Linked DNA regions of Homo sapiens. The protein of the gene in region 1 purifies or fractionates together with the protein of each later gene. This does not show direct contact. Each region holds a gene or a part of one and is shown on either strand. Other genes may lie near its edges. The genes, in order: REPS2 and GNL2.

Evidence for each region.
Region 2: the proteins of REPS2 (region 1) and GNL2 fractionate together in Homo sapiens (co-fractionation; one large-scale study listed by BioGRID). This does not show direct contact.

What each region holds. Positions count from the first base shown.
Region 1 is NC_000023.11:17,135,107-17,138,928, forward strand, and holds part of REPS2 (ralBP1-associated Eps domain-containing protein 2), read left to right. Parts: intron 1-154; coding exon 155-300; intron 301-3,749; coding exon 3,750-3,822. UniProt on the Homo sapiens protein: Involved in ligand-dependent receptor mediated endocytosis of the EGF and insulin receptors as part of the Ral signaling pathway. By controlling growth factor receptors endocytosis may regulate cell survival.
Region 2 is NC_000001.11:37,589,410-37,593,231, reverse strand, and holds part of GNL2 (nucleolar GTP-binding protein 2), read left to right. Parts: intron 1-425; coding exon 426-520; intron 521-2,386; coding exon 2,387-2,526; intron 2,527-3,822. UniProt on the Homo sapiens protein: GTPase that associates with pre-60S ribosomal subunits in the nucleolus and is required for their nuclear export and maturation.

The DNA.
Region 1 (3,822 bases):
GTCCCCCCAGTTCTTGCTGAGCCATGGGTCAGTAAATAGAGTACCCTCCTGATCTTGGGGTTGGGGCTAAAGGCATGTGGGACACTGGAAGGAAGAGTGGAGGGAACATTGAAATGTTTAACTTTTTAATTTTTATTTTGTTTTAAATCCACAGGATGTACTGTATTCTCAGCCACCATCAAAGCCCATTCGTAGGAAATTCAGACCAGAAAACCAAGCTACAGAAAACCAAGAGCCTTCCACTGCTGCAAGTGGGCCAGCTTCTGCGGCAACCATGAAACCGCATCCAACAGTCCAAAAGTAAGTAGACCACATAAACAAGAGTGAGGTAGGAATCTCGCTCTGAGATGTCGACGGATATGTAAATGTGTTGACATTTACGTGCGCACCAACAGAAGGATTTCATGGTTGTAAGTTTATCTTGCTCATCTCTGTGATGGGATTCAAGTCTCCCAGTCACATAGAAGGCTTTATAAGCTATAGGACTTAACCTGACCTAAAGGGGCAGGCGAGTCCTAGGCTGTGGTGTTTGGTTTGGTTTGATTTCTTTCCCTTCCTCTCACCTTCTGTTGTTTCCTACTCCTCTTCCTTGTGAGGGCCCAAATTTTCCTGGCAAGATGAAAGTATTGTAAGTGGCAATTTTGCCTCTCTGCCTGTGTTATCTCCTTTTCCTTCAGGGCAAATGGCTAGCTCCTTCACCCACAGACACACTTTCAGTAGGTGTGGTATGTGATTCTTTTAAAATCTCCGTAAAGAGTTTCTGTTGTTGGTCGCCTCAGCACAGAATGGATACATGCAGAACTTCCATTATATTTATCTAACCAGCTGGAACAGGTATTGGAGGGAGGGTGAAGACACCTGTGGACATGGCCAGGGACTGAGACAATGATGCTCTGGACAAACTATCCTTCTCTGTAAAACTTTGGCTTTGAGAAGAGCCATCACTTGCTTCAATTTCTTTGTAGTGAAATTGAGGGAGGTGTTGAGGACAGAAACCTGCTCCTGTCACTTGACTGCAAGTGAGCCTGACCGGTCACTAACATAAATGCTCAAGACCCATCATGACCCTGCTTTTGGGGTCTTGCAGGTCTCAGATGCTGCTGCAGATTTTCTTCTGCTTACACGTTGTAGAATGAAAAGCAGCAGGTTCTGTGGGAGATGTTAGCAACTTGTCTTTGAAGCCAAAGTCCCATTCTGAATCTCTGCAGCCCTCTCCTTCAGAAGATTTTCTTTTTTTCAAATGGACAGGTCCCTGGTGGTATCAGTCCATAAAGGAAGTATATTTTGTTCATCACATTCACCGAGAACTTTGACCATCTTCCAGCCCCTGTTAAGCCTGGAAGGTGAAGAATCCCTATCAGGGACAAAGATGGCTCAATTTTCTTCCATGTTCTACCCCAGCACTCCACTTTAATTTCAGCTTTATGTTCATTTTAGTCAGCAGTGGCTTAACAGTCTCCAGAGTAGATGTCAGGGCATCTGGTGGAGTTCATACAGAGATCTTTTCTTTTTCTCTTTTTTATAACAGCTTTATTGCAATATAATTCACATAGCATACAGTTCATGTTTTTAAATGTACAATTCAGTGGTTCTTAGTTTATTCACAAAGTCATGCAACCATCACCACAATCTAACTTTTGTCATGCCTAAAATAATATATATCCACGCCCATTAGCAATCACTCCCCATTCTCTCCTTCCCCCTCAGCCCCTGGCAACCACGAATCTCCTTTCTGTCTCCATGGCTTTGCATATTCTTGTCATTTCACATAAATGGAATAATGAAACGTGGTCTTTTGTGACTGGCTTCTTTCACTTAGCATAATATTTTCAAGGTTTATCCAAGTTGTAGCATAAATCTGAACTTATCTTTTTATGGCTGAATAATATTCCATTGTATGGATAGACCACATTTTATTCATCCATTCATCAGTCAATGGACATTTTGGTTATTTCTGCTTTTTTGGCTCTTAAGAGTAATGCCACTATACTGTTTGTGTACATGTTTTTGTGTGGACTTACATTTTCATTTCTCTTGGGTCTGTACCTAGGAGTGGAATTGCTAGGTCATGTGGTAACTCTGTCTTTAATATTTCGAAGAACTACCACACTTTTCATAGTGGCTGCACCATTTTATGTTCCCGTTGGCAACGTATGAGGGTTCCAATTTCTCCATTTTGTCAACACTTATCTTTTTTTTTTATTATAGCCATCCTAGTGAGTGTGAAGTGTGATCTCATGGTTTTGATTTGCATTTCTTTTGTGGCTAACGACATTGATCATCTTTTCATGTGCCTATTGGCCATTTGTTTATCTTCTTTGGAGAAATGTGTATTCACACCCTTTGCCCACTTTTAATTGGATTATTAATCTTTTTACTTTTGAGTTATGAATTCTTTATATATTCTGGATACAACTCCCTTGTTAGATATATGAGAAAATTGAGCCCTCTTTGTAAATATTTTCTCTCATTCTGTGGGCTGTCTTTTCACTTTCTATTTTTTATTTTTATTTTTTAGAGACAAAGTCTCACTCTGTCACCCAGGCTGGGGTGCAGTAGCATGATCATGGCTCATTGTAGCCTCGAATTCCTGGGCTCAAGTGATCCTTTCCCCCTCAGCCTCCTGAGTAGCTGGAACTACAGGCATGAGCCACCATTCCCAGCCAATTTCATTTTATTTTTTATAGTGATGGAGTCTTACTATGTTGCCCAGTCTGGTCTCAAACTCCTGGCCTCAAGTGATCATCCTGCCTCAACCTCTCAAAGTGCTGGGATTACAGGCCTGAGCCACTGCACCCAGCCAATTATCAATATTAATCAGATCTGTACAGTGGTCACAGTCCATTCTAGTTCAGTTGCTCTTTTCTAGAACCTATCTCCCAGTAATGGCACATATGGCTGTTTTTCTAGGAGAACATCAGTTGCTCTTTTGCTCTAAGAATTCGGTGTTTCTTGCTGTGGGATGAAAGGTTGTAGATTATCCCTGTGGTAACTGCACTGATTTATCATCCCAACCATGGACGGTTTTGAAAAGTAAAGAGAGTGCTAATGTACTTATGCTGGACAGACAGTTTTAAATGGAGACTGTAATGGGCGCAGTAGGATGCGTGGTCACTCTGGTTATGCGTGTTCTGTGAATTTGTTGTTAATTGGGAAATACTGGTATTAAAACGTTCTGTATTTTTCTCAAGAGCCACAGATATATGCTGGTCCATGCACATACACGAGTGCACATTTATGCACACACACACATATACTTAGGCATTCATGCCTAATAATACATAAGGTAGAGGTAGGTAGTCTGGCTAAGTTAATGTAGAATTTTTGCTAAAAATAATGTTCTTGTATTATTTTCCTTCAGACTTGTTCACAGGGGACACCTGCAGGTCTTCTAAGTGCTATTAATTCTTACACAAAAAGGGCATTCCAGTTAATATGGTTTGTCAGGAAGAAATACTTATTAAAATGTCTTGGAATAAATGGAACACAAATGTTTGAAAAGGCCCATTTCACAGCTTTTATTCAAGTTATAAAATGGGAATTACTTCAGGTGTAAATAATTCATCCCAATAAATTTGTTTCATTTGGTGTCTATCTTCCTGACCGCCTGTGAATATGAGATTTTATTTTTGGAGCCCTGTGTTGTTAACCACTTGTTAGTTTAACACCTCTCATGAATCAGAGTTCTGACCCTCAAGGGTCCAGACCTCTAAGTCCTTTTTCACTGAAGTGTTTGTGCTTTTCTATAGGCAGTCTTCCAAACAGAAGAAGGCCATTCAAACTGCTATCCGCAAAAATAAAGAGGCAAACGCAGTGCTGGCT
Region 2 (3,822 bases), on another chromosome or scaffold:
AATGTCAAAGAACTTAATATGTGTAGTCATCTACTTTGCAGTTTGTTTTAGAATTTGGAATTCCGGCGTAAATCACCCTCTACGTGAAAAATTCATTTAAACCAGCCTTTGAATAATTACCCAAAAAACTCAAGTATGTATGTGTTTTTTTTTTAAAGTAAACAGTAACCAGATTTTTTAGAACGTCACCATTAGTTGTTATTCATCTAGCAGAAATCATTACGTGCTCTGTTGCAAGAGGTTAAATGGCTTTTGGGCAATCTGTTTCAAATGTAGAAGTACTTTGTGTTTACTGGAATTGGTATTTCATGATCATTTAAAACCAAAGTAAGAAGTCCTTTTGATGGAAAATATATTCTGTAAATCAAACTTCGCTGTTGCCATTTTTCTGTTGTCAACCAATATCTGTTCTTTCCTCAATTTAGGAACAGTCGTGGTAAAATAATTAAACCCCTGCAATATCAATCAACGGTGGCTTCTGGCACAGTGGCAAGAGTAGAGCCAAATATTAAATGGTTTGGTGAGTATTATCCCCTGTTACTTTGCTCTACAAAATATATGCTGAGTGGAAACGGCTAGGATGTTTAAATGTCTAAACAGCAGGAGTTTTTGGTGAGTGAAACCGGCAAGGATTATCTGAGAAAGGGATAAGAAGAATTACTGGGAAAAGTAGTGGTGGTCAATTTAATAAATAACTTCTTTTTGAAGAGCGCTCACCATTAGTAATTGTAATTGAACCCTCTTAAGCAGATAAGACCATCCTTAATGACTAGCATTCACAGACCTTAGAATGCTCATCTTAATCTTTTCTGCTTTCCTAAAGAGATACTGTTGGAGAGGTGGCCTTGTAGGTTTTGTGCATATATCCTTCAGGGTAAGTGCATTAGCCCGAAGTTCCTCTGAAATACTTCTTAATGGGGTTTTTATTTGAACTTGGGTGACAATTAAAGGGTCTCACTGTTGAACTGTCCAACAGTGAATAGAGTATCTTCAGTCTCAGGGTGATCACAGCTTCTTCCTTGGAAAACTCCCTGTCTCATTTCAGTCTGGGCTCTTAACTTTGCCCTTAGCCACTGGTAAATGTATGGGCACTTTAGATGATCAGACCCCAGTGTTTGCTTGGTGTTTGACCTCTGTCCTTGGGGGCAGGTGGCAGCTATCTTTGAGTCTCTTATACTTTCAGTGGGATACTTCCTAAGAACTGCAACACAGAAAGGTGTCAAAACTCTGCAGAGAAGCATTTAGCATGGCTGCTGGGTACTGTGACTCGATTAGACTGCCTGGGTTTGAATTCTAGTTCTGTCATTTATGTGCCAGTGGGCAAGTTATTAAGTCTGTCTGTTCATCAGTTTTCTCATCCCTAACATGAGAATAAGATGAAACCTATCTCATAAGACTGTCATGGTAATCAAATGAGTAAATACAGGCAGGGCGCAGTGGCTCACGCCTGTAATCCCAGCACTTTGGGAGGCCAAGGCTGGTGAATCACTTGAGGTCAGGCATTCGAGACCAGCCTGGCCAACACAGTGAAACCCCCATCTCTACTAAATATACAAAAATTAGCCAGGTGTTGTGGTGGGCACCTGTAATCCCAGCTACTTGGGAGGCTGGGGCAGGAGAATCCCTTGAGCCCAGGAGGCAGAGGTTGCAGTGAGCTGAGATTGTGCCACTGCACTCCAGCCTGGGTGACAGAGTGAGACTCCATCTCAAAAAAAAAAAAAAAAAAAGAGTAAATATATATAAAGTGCTTAGAATAGCGCCTAGCAAATAGTGAGTATAATATAAGCATTACTTGCTACCGTCATTACCACCTTGCTGTTTTGCATTTATGCCGCAGCATGCTGTTTAATTGAATGCTTTTCAGGGTCTCCCTCACAAGATGTTTTCCAGGTGGTGGTGCAGGGCTCTATCTTGTTCCCTTGCATGGACTCATTGGTTAATAGTCCCTTTGAATCCTCATAACCCTAAAAGTGGCTAACTATGACTCAAATTTCAGTGTTTCAAGATTCTCTGTCTATACTGACTGATCAGCTGTGATTGGCTCCAGGTTTCTCTGCTAGATCTAGCAGGTAGTAGGACATTTGACAGATCTCAGTTCCATTCCACGCTATTTATTTCTCAGTTTCATTTAGTTAGGAAACTGGACTTGGAAAACTATTGAAACCCTTTGTGGGTCTGGATTTGTGGAATAGTTCATAGTGTGCAAGTGCGGGAGAGGCAGTTTTTTGGTTTTTTCCTCTTTTAAGTTTGAAAACAGCTCCAAGGGATGGATGGATCAGGTGCTTGGGTAAGTGAGGGTAATTTAAAATCTTGCCTTTCACCGTGTCAGTGGAAGATGGATGCGCAAATATTAACTAAGTGGCAACATTCTTTATTTGTAAAACAGGAAACACACGTGTGATTAAGCAGTCATCATTACAAAAATTTCAAGAGGAAATGGATACAGTTATGAAGGATCCATACAAAGTTGTCATGAAGCAAAGCAAGTTACCAATGTCTCTTCTCCATGATCGAATCCGGCCTCATGTAAGATGTAGGATATCCCTGGTGATGGAATTTCCTGGGCAAACTCCATGCAGATCCCTCTCTAACATATTTGTCTTTTGTTTTTCCTTAGAAAATAGTGACTTTAATGTAGCAATGATGAACTTTCTAAGACCTCTCTTTTCACCTTTTCATGTTTAGTATGAGGTGCAGTAGTGTAGTGGATCAAAGCACAGGTTTTGGAGTTGAGACCTGAATTTTAATCCTTGCTCTATCCCTTCCTGTGCCCTTAGTTGGGTTTCTCCATGAACTTTAACTTCTTTGCCTTGAAAGTATAGATAGGTCGGACACAGTGGCTCACGCCTGTAATCCCAGCACTTGGGAGGCTCAGGCAGGCGGATCACCTGAGGTCAGGAGTTTGAGACCAACCTGACCAACAAGAAGAAACCCTGTCTCTACTAAAAATACAAAATTAGCCAGGCGTGGTGGTGCATACCTGTAATCTCAGCTACTCAGGAGAGGCTGAGGCAGGAGAATCGCTTGAACCTGGGAGGCAGAGATTGCAGTGAGCCAAGATCGTGCCATTGCACTCCAGCCTGGGCAACAGGAGCGAAACTCCGTCTAAAAAAAACAGAAAGTATAGATAACCGACCTCCTTGGGTTATTGGCTACAGATGAAGCATCTGTAAAGCACTTGGCCCATAGTGAGCACATAGCACACCACCTAATAAGAGCTAAATTGATAACAGCTATTAGTAATATTATTTATTTTGGTAGGCAAACTTGTTTTAAGTGGTAATTCCATCAAACTTTGGGACAGCGTAGAATTAGGATTGAGTTGGTAGAACTTTGGTGTTGCGTACGTTCAGCTTTTGTGAGATCCTTGAGATTTTTTCTCAGCTGAAGGAAGGGGTGCTGGTCACATTGGTTGTCAATTGCTAAAATTTGAAGTGCAGTAAGGATTCAATCTGGGTTGAGTGGAATGAGTTTCACACAGAACAAAGAAAGAATCTGTTGTTTGTCTGCTTATTTTTACTTGCATTGAATAATAAATTCCCAGAAATGTAGCCAGTACGTAAGCTTCAGTTCCAGTATGAGGAGGGGAGAAAAACATTGACATGCATACGTGGGTTAAATAGTTCAGGCTGGGCGCGGTGGCTCACGCCTGAATCCCAGCACTTTGGGAAGCCAAGGCGGGTGGATCACAAGGTCAGGAGATTGAGACCATCCTGGCTAACACGTGAAATCCCGTCTCTACTAAAAATACAAAAAAAAATTAGCCGGGCGTGGTGGCGGGCACCTGTAGTCCCAGCTACTCAGGAGGCTGAGGCAGGAGAA